Linked DNA regions of Homo sapiens: region 2 is linked to region 1. The links come from fine-mapping of genetic effects on gene expression. A gene starts in region 1. The other region holds a variant in brackets. All regions are shown on one strand. Distances are from middle to middle.

The links. PIP is the estimated chance that this variant, and not a neighbour inherited with it, causes the effect. A credible set is the group of variants that fine-mapping cannot tell apart.
Region 2: its variant is the best candidate, but not a certain one, in a credible set for the expression of OSBP2 in unexposed skin (GTEx, PIP 0.58).

What each region holds. Positions count from the first base shown.
Region 1 is chr22:30,693,262-30,696,273 of GRCh38, forward strand. OSBP2 (oxysterol binding protein 2) reads left to right here and starts at 1,613. Exons shown (of 14, transcript NM_030758.4): 1 at 1,613-2,292. The coding sequence starts at 1,649. RefSeq lists silencers at 1,286-1,365, 1,750-1,799.
Region 2 is chr22:30,829,940-30,832,439 of GRCh38, forward strand. The region is part of intron 2 of OSBP2 (oxysterol binding protein 2); the gene reads left to right. Among named protein-coding and RNA genes, the nearest start is that of MORC2-AS1, 91 kb to the right of the region's middle. RefSeq lists enhancers at 1-1,016, 1-452, 453-953. The variant C/G (reference allele first, on the strand shown) is at 1,208.

The sequences.
Region 1 (3,012 bases):
GGCTCTCTGCACTCCAGAGCTCACAGCAAAATTGCAGGTAAGACCACCATTCAAAGACAAGTGCCTGAGGAAGGGGTCTCAAAGTCACCAGCAAAGATGCCAGCGGCTCCTGCTCAGTGCATGTCTGCACCTCCTATTTCTAGGACCTTCCAATCTGCTTCCTTCTGGGGACCACTTCACGTAGGAAGCAGTCCCTACACAGGTTATCTTGTCACAAGCAAAGATCAGGAATGGATAGGTGGGTAAGGGGAGAGTAAGACGTGATGGTGAGCTAAGAGGAGTCTGCAGAGAGGTCTAAGCTTGAAAAGTCTGGACAGAAACCCAATGTTCAGTCTTTCCATTTGTATTTCTGATTATTTGTAGTAACCATCAACTTTCGTCATTTGGATAGATTCTTAAGAAAAAAAAAAAATCACTGATGGCTGGGCACAGTGGCTCACGCCTGTAATCCTAGCACTTTGGGAGGCCGAGGCGGGAGGATCCTGGCCTGAGGTCAGGAGTTCAAGACCAGCCTGACCAACATGGTGAAACCCCGTTTCTACTAAAAATACAAAATTTAGCTGGGCATGGTGCGGGCCGTGGAATTCCAGCTACTAGGGAGGCCAAGGCAGGAGAATCGCTTGAACCTGGGAAGCGGAGGCTGCAGTGAACCAAGATCACGCCACTGCATTCCAGCCTGGGCTACCGAGTGAGACTCAGTCTCAAAAAGGAAAAAAAAAAAAAGCGGAAAAAAAAATTCGCTGATGTTTTAACCATTCTGGGGTCACAGCCTCCTTTGTTATGGACCTACTCTGGAAAAATGCACAGACAGGTAAACCTCTGCGGAAGCCTCACAGACTGCCAGCCTACCCAGGGATCCCGGGAGGTCCAAGTTCAGAATCCCACTTTGAGATGTTTCTTGTACTAAAACGCTTGGTTTACAAAAAGTCTTCCCCTATTTGTTTAGAGAACCCGAACGATGTCGTCACTGGCAGCGAAGCGCCTTGGCATGAACCGTAGGCCAGCTGGCTCAGGAGGTGGAGGCGGTGAGGCGGCCACTTGGGGCCACCGCTTCTGGCGGCCGCAGGAGCGACCCACAGACAGGTAATGGCTGCCATGGGGGGCGGGGCGTCGTCTTTAGCCTTTAGCGCCCCTGTGCTTCGTGCGCATTTCGTGGCCTCTGGGTGCCGTACCTGCTTCCCACCCGGCTTTCCTGGGTGGCGGAGAGCGAACCCACCCCAGCCTGGGTTGGGGGAGGGGGCGTCGGCGCAGGGTCCCGTGGGCAGAGCTGCGCTGGGAGCTGGCGGGCTCCGCATTCATCATTGTTCCTCCAGCGCCTGGCACGGCTGGGCCGAAGCAGAGACCGTGGCCTGAAGCGCGCCATCCCCTTCGGAGTTGACCGACCACCAAGCTCTTCCGCCCACAGGTGTTGTCAGAGCTCCTTCCACCGGCCGGACCTAGGAAGGACCCAGGGTCCAAACATGGCCCGAGGCTGGCCGAGAGCACAACAGCCGGCGGGCGCTGACGGGCACGGAGCGCACGGGACCGCGGAGGAACCCGCGCGCGCCCCCGCCTCGCGCCGCGCGCACGTGACTGCGCCCCCGGCCCCGCCCCCGGCCTGCCCCCCGCCCCCACTGGCCGCTCGGCCGCGCGCGGGTCGGCCGGCTCTATGGGGAAAGCGGCGGCTCCGAGCCGAGGCGGCGGCTGTGGCGGCCGCTCCCGCGGGCTCTCGTCGCTGTTCACGGTTGTCCCCTGCCTGTCGTGCCACACGGCGGCGCCGGGCATGAGCGCTTCCACGTCCGGCTCCGGGCCGGAGCCCAAGCCCCAGCCCCAGCCCGTGCCCGAACCGGAGCGGGGACCGCTGTCAGAACAGGTGTCGGAGGCAGTTTCGGAGGCAGTGCCAAGATCGGAACCTGTGTCCGAGACGACGTCTGAGCCGGAGCCAGGGGCTGGGCAGCCATCGGAACTGCTGCAGGGGTCGCGGCCGGGGTCAGAGTCAAGCTCAGGTGTAGGGGCTGGGCCCTTCACTAAGGCCGCATCGGAGCCGCTCTCCCGGGCGGTGGGGAGCGCGACCTTTCTCAGACCCGAGTCAGGATCGCTGCCAGCGTTAAAGCCCCTGCCTCTTCTGCGACCAGGACAGGCGAAGACTCCTCTTGGGGTTCCAATGTCGGGGACTGGCACGACCTCCAGTGCCCCACTGGCCTTACTGCCTCTGGACAGCTTCGAGGGCTGGCTTCTCAAGTGGACCAACTATCTGAAGGGCTACCAGCGCCGCTGGTTCGTGCTGGGCAATGGTTTGCTCTCTTACTACAGGTATGGAAGCGCCAGGGTGGGACATGGGGGTTGGAGGGTGGTGATGCTGCAGGGATGGTGATGGAGGGCCTCCATGGTTGGCGGACACTGCCACTAGTCTAGAGATGTTTAGGGGCATGCATTCCAGCAGGCCAAGTCACGCTTCTGGCCCGCCGCCAAGGGCCGGGGGCCCTGACCTCTGGCAAGGGTGAATGTGATCTGCGGACATGACCTCTGGCAAGCTTGGGTTTTTGGGCAAGTGGGGAGGTGGAGTAAGGGAGTGATCTGGGGCCTCAGTTCCCTTCTGCTTGGCAGTTGTGGGGCTTGGGGCAGCTAGCTAGAGTCAGCCCCTCAAAGTCCTTGCCCTTTCTGGTTCGGGAGCTAACATCATTGTGTGTTTGGGATTGAGGGAGAGAGTCACCTTGTTCAGTCCTTAGGACCCACACTCTTAGGAAGGGCTGCTTATTCTTCCCGCCTGGGGCAGTTACTCCCACCTTTCCTGATGCCTCTGGTTGCCAGGCCTTGGGCTGGGCACCACAGACTCACAGATGTATTGGACACGGTTCTTGGCCTTCAGGAGTCCATCTTGGCATTTTGCGGAGAGCTAGGAAGTGTTTTGCTGCCCTCCTTTCTTATTCCAGACCCAGCACGGGATTCAAAATTAAAGTCCAGTGGTGAGAGAGCTAACACTGTCTTCCCACTGAAACTGGTTGAAAGGAGGTTACTGAAGCCTCCCTTTGC
Region 2 (2,500 bases), 140 kb after region 1:
GGGCTTGGGAGACTTCAGTGAAAAGATCTCAAGGTGGCTAGTGAAATGGAGAGAGGGGCCTGAGTCTGGATGCATGGGGTTGAGCTGGAGCTGGGACTGAGGGGTTTGCTGGATGTACATCTTCTTCTGACCTCATCAGGGAGTGTCCTGTAGGGCCCGGCCCTGCCCACTGCAGATTCATTCTCCTGGCATCTGGTTTTCCTATAAAGTGCCAGTCAGCTCAAACCAGCAGCAGCATCTGATCAAATAGATGAGCAATATGAATAAAAATGAAGTTATGGGCTTTGGGCTGCCAAAGATAAATTTCCTTTTATGTCCTGTTTCCCTGTGACGTGTGTGTTGAGTAATGATTCCTGACGCATATCTTCAGAAATAGTAGTTGCTCACACTGGGTGGTGTGTCAAGGCGGAAGGAGGCCACAGACTTGGGGAATGGAACCCCACCTGGACAGCGCCCTGGGGCTGCCTGCCGCATCCTGACCTGGCATGGCCATCAGCCTTTCGGCCATAGGTGGGGCTGGTTAGAGGACAAGTGTCTTTCCTGGTCAGGCCCACTGGGTGCATCCCTCCACCGCGGATATTTTTACATTAGAAGCAGCATAGTTTGTACGGGACAGGGCCCCTGGAATGTGACTCTTAGTTCATTAACCATTTGGTAACTGCTCATCTGCCTGGCAAAATCCCTTCCCCAAATCCCACTCCTCACCTGTCCCCCAGCACACATGCTTTGTTTTTGGCCAGACTTTCTGAGATTCAGCAGGACCAATCTTCTGTGCCCTAGGCATTCATTATTTTTAAGGGTTATTTACTGTTTAGACAACAATTCCAGATGTTCAAGAGCATGGCGTTTCCATAGCGCCATTATCCCTTTGCCACTGTTTTTAGGTCTCTATTTTTGGTCAATGTTTTTCCTTTATACAAACATCCTTTTAATATCATTGAGATCCAAAAAAAAAAAATGTCATTTTCACATGGCTGTACATCATAAACACTTTCCCACGTTATCGCAGGCTTTGTGTTTATTCGTTGGAAGGCTGTGGAATGCCTTTTCCTTCTGTTAGACATTTAGGTTCTTCCCAGATCACTGTAGCCAACTGCTGCCTGAGCATCTTTGGCATGTAAAGTTTTTCCTTTGTGTTTCTTTCCGGGACACATTGCCAAGAATGCAATCGCTGAGTCAAAGGGTGTGAATGCTTCCCTCTAGCAGC[C/G]CCATCACCCTTGGCAAGAACGTTCTGGTTCATGATGCTTGGGGCGGGTGTGGACAACACCTTGCTGTAAGCTTCCCTACATTAGACTTCCATCATTCTGAGAGATTATTCTTTGGCCAGTATAATGTGCCTTGTTTTCACTTGCAATTGACTAACCAAAAAGCATGAAGTGTCCTTACTAGTTCAGTTATTATTTGTTGTTGCTCTTTGATGGCTCGTCAGCTGCACTGTCTCCTGCCATTGTGTGGAAAACCAACGGAAGGCATTCTAAACGAAGTTGGTTTATGTTGTACGTGGCTGGAACCCAAGCCAGACAGGACTTCTTGGGACCCTGGCACCGATCCACTGTCCTTGGTGGTTGGGGTTCAGAGAAGTGGTCCCTGGAACTGTCATCCCCTAGCAAAACCTGCTTCTTGACTTGTGGGGCAAATGCAAAATGAAAATATAGGGCCCCTTGCAAAAATTATTAAGAATTTCAAGACAGCTGAGAATTAAATCAAGGGTAGGGCCCTTCTGAATTGGGGGTGATGCTGGCACTGCCCCTGTTCTCTGGAGTTATCTAGTGGGAGGTGGCTCACTTGACTGTACTGAATCCACTCTTTAGCTTTCCCAAGGGACATTCCAGATGCAGAGGTCCCAATCCAGGCATGGGTGAGAGTCTGATGGGAGGCCACTTATGGCCACCAACAGCCCCCATCCTGCTGCTGTGATCAGCACTCAAAGTCAGCACCACAGGAGAACCTGTTAACCACCCTCTCTGATCTCCTTGGCCCAAAGTTAATTGCCTTCTCCCATGGCTGTTTCTGTGCCTACTTTGACCTCACCCTGACCCCTGGTAGCTCTTTCTGGTGATGATCTGACCTTTCTCCTCCTGCTCCTCTTTGCCTGCTTTGGCCAAGCAGAACAAGTGACCAGGAAGCATCTCACTGTCCTGGGACATTCTGGGCACTTTTTCCAGTATGAGCCTTCATCTTTGTTGTGCCTACTTCACTCCCACCATCCCTCTCTGCCCTTCTGCCCTTGCCCCCTTCTTACCAGCTCAGTTTTCAAGATTCACACTGAAGTCCTTAATGTATCCAGAATTGATTTCTGTATATATATGTAAATGATATGAACTATGCAGTTAATTTTCTTTTTCTTTTTTCTTTTCTTTCTTTTTTTTTTTAAGATACAAAGTCTCGTTTTGTTGCCTGGAGTGCAGTGGCATGATCATGGCTCACTGCAGCCTCGACCTCCCCATCTCAAGCGATCCTCCCACCTCAGCCTCCCAAGTAGCTGGGACTACAGGCATGT